Regions from separate parts of the Homo sapiens genome. Here region 1 is linked to region 2. Evidence: fine-mapped expression QTL. A gene starts in region 2. The other region holds a variant in brackets. All regions are shown on one strand. Distances are between the middles of the regions.

Region 1 (4,529 bases), 62 kb before region 2:
ATTACATGCATATGCCACCACACCCAATGAATTTTTTATTTTTAATTTTTTTGTAGAGATGGGGGTCTTGCTATGTTGCTAGGGCTAGTCTGAACTCCTGGCCTCAAGTGATCCTCCTCCCTCAGCCTCCCAAAGTGCTGGAATTACAGGTCTGAGCCACAGCACCCGGCCTGCATGTGCTATACTTTTATACTGCTGGCCATACGGTAGATTTATTGACATGAGCACTGCCACAAGCATGAATAATGCAGTGCTCTACAACGTTATGATGGCTGCAAAGCACTAGGCAATAGGAATGTTTCAGCTCCATTATAATCTTATGGGACCACCATCATATATCAGGTCCGTCATTGACCAAAACACTGTTCTACAGCCCATGACTATGACCAGTCCCTGTTGGACCCCTTTATTCCCCAGCTAGATCCTTCCAAGCAGGCAGTTTGCTCACATTGGCTCTCAGCATGGGCCTGAGCTTATTCTGATGTCCTAAAAACATCACACCACTACTGTATTCATGCCAAAATGAGGCTTACTCATACAGAAAATAGGATGGTTTTATTTTGTGCAAGAAAAATGGAAAAGGCAAGAGTGACTTGCCTGGCAGTTAGTGGTGGTTCCTGCTTTCCATCTTCTGTCTGCGTCTGTCTCTGTGCAAGAGTGGGCCTGCCACATGCGTAGAGAAAGCCAGGGGAGTTCCGAGACTGAGCAGGGGCCAGAGCAGGCTCCCAGAGGAGGTAACCACACTTGGCTAATTTTTTTGATTTTTTTTATAGAGATGGGGTTTTGCCATGTTGCCCAGGCTGGTTTTGAACTCCTGGGCTCAAGCGATCCTCCCATAGCGCTGGGGTTGCCGGCGTGAGCCACCACACATGGACCAATGTGCTTGTTTTAAGCTAAGCGTTATCACAAAAGAGTAAACGTCCTGACTTGAGACTCACCCAGTGAAAGAAAGGAGGCTGTGAGTGCTTGACTGAATGACTTAATAAGACCATGTCTTGTCATCTTGAGATTGAAGGTGCGTGGAGAGCAGATGGCAAAGGACTCAGCATTTGGGACACGTTTTCTCACACACCACTGAGGGTTGAGAACGATGCCATTGGAGACGTGGCCTGTGACAGTTATCACAAGATTGCTGAGGATCTGGTCACCCTGCAGAACCTGGGCGTGTCCCACTACCGTTTTTCCATCTCCTGGTCTCGCATCCTCCCTGATGGAACCACCAGGTACATCAATGAAGCGGGCCTGAACTACTACGTGAGGCTCATCGATACACTGCTGGCCGCCAGCATCCAGCCCCAGGTATGGTGGGTCCTGGCAAGGCCTTGGGAAAGTCCACATGCAGGAACCAGCAGGGCTGGGGGAGCACATTTATCATGTAAACAAAATGCTGGTTTCAAATTTAGCTTTTGTTGTTATTGTTGTTTTTGAGACGTAGTCTCGCTCTGTCACCCAGGCTGGAGTGCAGTGGCGGATCTCGTTTCTCAGCCTCCAGAGTAGCTGGGCTTATAGGCACGCATCACCATGCCCAGCTAATTTTTGTATTTTTAGTAGAGACGGGGTTTCACTGTGTTGGCCAGGCTGGTCTCAAACTCCTGGCCTCAAGTGATCCACCCGCCTCGGCCTCCCAAAGTGCTGAGATTATAGGTATGAGCCACCGTGCTCGACCTCAAATTTAACTTTTTAATTGTCAGTGAATTCATATGATGCAGAATTTGAAAAGCATAAAAGAGTTTCCTTCCCAACCTTGACCTCAGCCATCTAGTTCTCCCTGAAAGCAATTTACCCTTTTCCCAAAAGAAAAAGAAAAAAATCTTTGAGCCTTTTTGTCTCATAAGTCACTCTCAGGATTTGCAGCAGACGTTGATGCTGGCACATCTAACCTAGGGCTTCCCATGGAAAGCATGACTGATGCAACAGCTGATCTGGCTTCTTCCCAGGTGACCATTTACCACTGGGACCTACCACAGACGCTCCAAGATGTAGGAGGCTGGGAGAATGAGACCATCGTGCAGCGGTTTAAGGAGTATGCAGATGTGCTCTTCCAGAGGCTGGGAGACAAGGTGAAGTTTTGGATCACG[C/T]TGAATGAGCCCTTTGTCATTGCTTACCAGGGCTATGGCTACGGAACAGCAGCTCCAGGTAAGTCCCAGCCCTGGCTCATAGGCTCTTTGAATCATGGCATTCTTAGCACATCAAGAGTTGAAATCCAGATGGCACAGGACGAGGCAACCAAGAAAGCCCCATGGCAGAAACCCTGCCTCTTGCTCAGGGCTGTAGAGGTTTCCCTCCTGGCATTGCATTGTTAAACATGAATTTCACATCTCAATTCCTCAAGGTGGGTTCATTTCTTTGCTCTGTGACTCTGATCGGCCTCAGGTGGGAAGCTCTCTGAGATCAGAGATGTGGGCAAATTGATGTGGGGAAGGACAGTTTGTCAGGCTGTACAGGTCTACAGTCTATTTCCACAATTCCCAAACCCCAAAGTTTCTGACAATTGGTTTGGCTGACCTGAGCTCATTTAATAGTAGTGAAACCTGACTCAAACCAACAGGAGGCTGCTCATGGTCTTTATCGCACTGAGCAAACATTCCTAAGTTCTGCTGCAGAGATATCAGTGTGCTTGACTATGGAGAGCTAGCTGTCTGCGGCCCATGGGGCTGATAGGTACTTTTCTCAAAGGAAACATTTAATTCCAAAACACATCTGACCCTAAAAGATTTTTTTTCTTTTAACTTTGGTTGACATGCAATAATTGTACATATGTATGGAGTACAAAATATATTTTGATACATGTATACAATGTGTGATGATGAAATCAGAATAATTAGTATATTCATCACCTCAAACATTCATCATTTCTTTGTGTTGGGAAAATTCGGAGTCCTCTTTTCTAGCTTTTTGCAAATATACACTAAATTCTTTTGTATCATTATTTTTTATTCATTTTTTATTTTTTTGAGACAGAGTCTAGCTCTGTTGGCCACGCTGGAGTGCAGTGGTATGATACCAGCTCACTGCAACCTCCACCTCCTGGGCTCAAGCAATTCTCCTGCCTCAGCCTCCCAAGTAGCTGGGATTACAGGCATGTGTCACCATGCCCAGCTAATTTTTGTATTTTTAGTAGAAATGGGGTTTCATCATGTTGGCCAGGCTGGTCTCGAACTCGTGACCTCAGGTAATCCGCCCGCCTCAGCCTCCCAAAGTGCTGGGATTACAGATGTGAGCCACTGCACCCAGCCTAAATTATTGTTAACTACATTCACTCTACAGTGCCACACATCACTAGAACTTCATCTTCTTATCTAGCTTAACTTTGTATCCGTTAACCAACCTCTCCCTGTCCTCCCTCCCTACTACCCTTCCCATCCTCTAATAATCACAATTCTATTCTCTGCTGCTAGGAGCTCATCTTTTTAGCTCCCACATGTGAGTAAGAACATGCAGTATTTGCCTTTCTGTGCCTGACTTATTTCACTTTACATAATGACCTCCAGTTCCAGCGATGTTGTCACGAATGACAAGATTCATCCTTCTTTATGGCTGTATAGTATTCCATCATATATAGATGCCACATTTTCTTTATCCATTCATCTGTTGATGGACACTTAGGTTGATTCCATATCTTGGCCATTGTAACAGTGATGCAATAAACACAGAGGTCAAGGTATTGATTTGGTATTCTGACTTACTTTCCTTTGGATAAATACCCAAAAGTAAGATTGCGGGATCCCTTAGGGTTTTGAATAAGAAATTGTGGACCTATTTTTGTGCCTTGAGAACCATCCAGTTTCCCTTTTATCTAGTTCTGAGTTAATAAGAATAAATTTGTGTTCATTCATGTGATTCCTCAGAACACTGTGTAACAGCTGGAAAGAGCCACCAGGAGATGTGCCTCAAATCGTTATCAGAGGCATCTCCATTGGTCCTAGTTCGCCCCTTTGGTTTACACTCCTTCAACACATGAGAGGCGCCTCTCTTGCAGCATTCACTATCAGGGTATCTCCGTGTCAGCTGGTTGCATTAGCTACATTCTCCAACCCAAATGATCACAATGGGTCCCCAAGGAGCTCCAGATTATCAACTCCTGTCAATTCATTTGAGCCCAGGAGTTCAAGGCTGCCGTGAGCCATGCTCATGGCACCACTGCACTCCAGCCTGGATGACAGTGCATGACCCTGTCTCAAAAATAATCATAGGCCGAGTATGGTATCTCACGCCTGTAATCCCAGCACTTTGGGAGGCCAAGACAGGTGGATCACCTGAGGTCAGGAGTTCAAGACCAGCCTGATCAATATGGTGAAACTCCACCTCTACTAAAAATACAAAAATTAACCAGATGTGGTGGCATGCGCCTGCAGTCCCAGCTACTCAGGAGGCTGAGACAGGAGAATTGTTTGAACCCCTCGGCTCACTGCAGTCTCCACCTCCTGGATTCGAGTGATTCTCCTGCCTCAGCCTCCTGAGTAGCTGGGATTACAGGCGCCTGCCACCACAGCTGGCTAATTTTTTGTATTTTTAGTAGAGACAGGTTT
Region 2 (4,000 bases):
TCCAAATATTAATATTTGTTAATAAAAATCTCTCGTTTCTTTTTTTAAATTAACTGATTTACCTCAAGAGTGCCTTCTAGGAATGTTTGGACATTTGTTCAAAAACATGACTACCATAATCCAAATTTCTGATTTCTATACCAATTTAAATCACCAATTTACAAATTGTTCAGTTTTTTCCTTAAGAAACAAAAAAGCCAGTTTTTTTGAAGCTACTAAAAAATTTGACTGTTAAGACATGTAAATCCTTTTTGTGGCCCTAGTGCAAGTCACTTTATGACTGCTGACCTAAGTGCCTCATCTATAAAATGGGGATAATTAAACCTGTTCTATTTACTGCAAGGATCAACTGAGATATTAGGAGAAAAACAATTTAAAATGTCAAAAACCTACTAATGTACACAATAAGCATAGTGTCATTTACTTTTCCTTTCATTTTCAATCCATTTTTTTCCTTACGGGATTACAGAATTAATTTATGTAAAGTATAATATAACCCCCAGACAGCATCACAGAATCTAAACTATTCAAGCTCTTCTAATAAACAGCATTGAGCTAAAAACTTGGCGTAACAAAACAATTATAAATTCCAAATTTAATGCTAAATGACATTCACATTTCAGTAATTCGTTCTTCACTGCAGTGCATAAAGTTATAGAGCTATTAAAAGACGAGTTAATTATGAATAAACCGTTATTAAACACAAATAGTTGAAGAAATACACCTCAAATTAACAACAGCCACAAACATTGATTTGGTCCATGTAATGAGTATGAGCAGAACCGTAGAGGCAGGGAGTTCACTGTAAATCTACAAGATTTCAGTAATAAAACAGGAGAATATGGAGCAAAATAGCCTAGAGCAACAGAGAATATATGAGTTAATAAACGTTCTCAAAGTCGTGTAGATTTTAGCCTAAGAAGACAACAAAGGGAAGAAACCAAGGACTGAACGTCTATTTTCTTTGAAACTAATGGATTTTTTTTAAACTTACATTATTTCACACTAGATCCCCTACCAAGACTGCCATAAAGAAAAATTAAACCTCTATTCAGCTCAAAAGTTTACGTTTCAGGAACGTACTAACACCAGTAACCGTGAACATCAGGTGGTTTCTCTTTGTTGCTTATCGATGACACAGCTTTCTTCCCGACAGTCCACAACTAATTACAACCCAACTGCTTGCCTAATGGCCCGTTCCTACCTCCATCTAAACAGCAGTAACGAAACGGGCGTTCAAGCAGCACAAAGAGGGTCCTTGGTGACAGAGAGGGACGTCAGGGAGAGGGTCGCGGGGGTCTGGCTGCGCAGGGGAGAGGCTCGGGGCGACGAGCGGGGCTGGGCGGCTGGGGCCTGCTGGCCGCGTCCGTCGCCCCGAGCGGGGAGATTTCGGCGGGCCTCGGGGCGCTTTGGAGACCAGGGCCAGACGGTGCCTCCGGCCCGGCTGCCGGGAGACGCAGCGGTGGGGCCAGGCCCACTGTATCTCAAACGAACCGGGGAGGCGCTGAACAGCCACGGGCCGGCAGCCCGGGCCTCGCAGACACTGAGGAAAGGCTGGGGGCGCCCGGGGCCTGAAGGAGCAGGGCGCTGAGGGTCTGCATGGCCCCTCTGGGGGATCTGGCGGCGGAGTCGCAGCCGTCCCTGGGGCGCGGGGTAGTAGTGGCAATTGTGCGAGCCGACAGGAGCCCGCGTCTCGGGGAGGGCGGGCCGGCGGCTGAGGTATACAAGAGGATGAAGGTAGGCCGGAGGGGTGTCCCGGCCGCCTCTCGAACCCCTGCCTCCTTCACCTGCCACGAACACCACGAAGACCGCGCCGCTCCTTTTGGCCGTCGCGATGGCGGCCGGAATGGCGCCCTGGAACCACAGCATCGCTCCCTTCGGGCCCAGGCGCTCGCTCGGTGTGTAGTCTCCGCAGTCCCGAAGCCGGCTCCGCCCTCCGTCTTCGTCCGGCTCTGCGGCCCCCGCAACCTTGGCTGGTTCGGCCCCCACCTCCGGCTCCGCACAAGCGCGCACGCCCGTCAGCGGCACCCGGAGACGCGCGCTAGCGCGCGCGAGAACACCTCACGTCACAGTCGCAACCCGTCGGTGTCCGTGCCCCAGGACCTTCTCTCGTTGGCGAGTCGATGGTGCGGGCGCGCGCCCGCTAGGCCTCCGGTCGCGCAGTCCAGGAAGTGGAGGAAAGCGGTAAGAGGGATGACTAACCGCTAAGACACGTCGGCGGCGCCTGCAGTGAGGCATGATGGGAATTGTAGTCCACTTAGGCTTATTCGCCTCCATATTGTGGAGCATGTAACTGTGGGTTCTGAGGCACAGCTAAAGGGGGCAGTAGTGAGGGCCACTACACATTCTATAAAGGGGAGAGGGAGAAATAAGTGTCACTCCAACTGGCATATGCTATTCTCGGCCTCGTTGAGACTCTCAGTGTGGAGGAAATAGTCCTCGCATGGAACTAAATGGGCTTTGTCGGGATTAACTCCGAGGCTTTGATTTCTTCTGAACGTAGCCCAACCTTGCAGAAAAACGGGATAAAAACCGCAAGTCACCTTCTTTAATAACCTGTAGTCCATGTGCCTAAGCGGAGGAATTGGTAGAACGCAGGCCTTCAGCAATTTCCTAGACACTGGATAGAGATCATTTCAAAACTTCAAAACGCGTTAGGCTATTGCCACAGCTACTTTTTAAAGTAACACAAAGCAGAGAATAGATTATTTCTTTTCCAGCTACTTTCCATGGTAATACAAAAGAGACTAGATAGTGATTTATTTTCCAATTTTCTGGGAGAATGTCCTATAATCAAGATGTGGCGCTTTGTGATTGGCTGCCATTAAATGAAAACTGATCCATATTTAATACTTTCATGAAATCACATGGTCTGTAATAACTATTAGCTAAAGGCTTGCATGGTTTATTTAAAGTTGCATATACTATTATGTTAAATTCTACATCAATTAAATTTATCCTCCAGCAGTACATCTATCTGACAATCTTTGCAAGATAAAGGAAGTGATACATCTGAATATACCACCTTTCCTACAGATATTTTCCCTAAAAATAGCTAATTATTTGCACTCCGATTTTTGTACTTTTTTTCCCAATCAGGCCTCTCGTATATAGTGTTATTATAAACTGAGACATAATGCTGATTAGGGACAGTTGCTTCTATAGGACAACAATCCTACAGAAAAATTAGAATTGACCTTTAACATCAACTTTAATGGACTTCTGGAAATTTGATCAATCTAGAAATTATTCCAATAGAGCTATGTCTTTAATTATCTCTAATTTTAGAATTAAATAAGAATCCTTCATAGTTTTATATTCATTTGTCAAGTGTTTATCACTCATCTTTTATGAGCTAGGCATTGTGCCTGGCACTGATAAGGAGGTGAGGCAGTCAGAAGAAGGCCCTGTCTTTGTGACTGTACAGTCTAGTCAGGAAGACAGACATTGAATAAGTAATTATGAGTGATGATAAATGTCACAGAAGGGTAATTCAGAGTGCTACAGAAGTGTATGAGGATGGGACCGAACATGGGCTAGTGGAGTCAGAAAGGGCCTTCATGAGGAAATGACGTGTCGGGGAACTCTAGGTAGGTGAAGGAGAAGGCTATTCCACATGAGGCTCTGAAGCAAGCAAACACAGTGCACTTGCAGAACTAAAAAATGCCCAGTGTGGCTATAACATAGAAAGAGGAGTGTGGTACAAGTGAGGCTGGAAAGCTAGGCAAGGATCAGATGATACAGAGTCTTGAAAATCATGTTAAAAATTTTAAGACATTTTTCTAAGGATTACAGGGAGCCATTGAAAAATTTTAAACAGAAGAGTTGGCCAGGCACAATGGCTCATGCCTGTAATCCCAGCACTTTGGGAGGCCGAGGCGGGCAGATCATGAGGTCAGCAGTTCAAGACCAGCCTGACCAACGTGGTGAAACCCCATCTCTACTAAAAATACAAAAATTAGCTGGGCGTGATTGCACATGCCTGTAATCCCAGCTACTC

Alleles and levels. Alleles are on the strand shown, and positions count from the first base shown. SD is a standard deviation of normalised expression in the study named.
In carriers of allele C in region 1, the expression in cerebellar hemisphere of the gene that starts at base 1,944 in region 2 tends to be lower than with T alone (small effect, 0.28 SD a copy in GTEx).

The links. PIP is the estimated chance that this variant, and not a neighbour inherited with it, causes the effect. A credible set is the group of variants that fine-mapping cannot tell apart.
Region 1: its variant is the best candidate, but not a certain one, in a credible set for the expression of UBXN4 in cerebellar hemisphere (GTEx, PIP 0.60).

What each region holds. Positions count from the first base shown.
Region 1 is chr2:135,801,537-135,806,065 of GRCh38, reverse strand. It overlaps LCT (lactase), which reads left to right. Exons shown (of 17, transcript NM_002299.4): 10 at 1,009-1,299; 11 at 1,938-2,136. Among named protein-coding and RNA genes, the nearest start is that of LCT-AS1, 16 kb to the left of the region's middle. The variant C/T (reference allele first, on the strand shown) is at 2,079.
Region 2 is chr2:135,739,799-135,743,798 of GRCh38, reverse strand. It overlaps UBXN4 (UBX domain protein 4), which reads right to left and starts at 1,944. Exons shown (of 13, transcript NM_014607.4): 1 at 1,788-1,944. The coding sequence starts at 1,869. LOC107985946 (a long non-coding RNA gene) reads left to right here and starts at 1,155. Exons shown (of 1, transcript NR_163478.1): 1 at 1,155-2,970. RefSeq lists a silencer at 1,357-1,406 and enhancers at 703-1,478, 1,807-1,866, 2,197-2,326.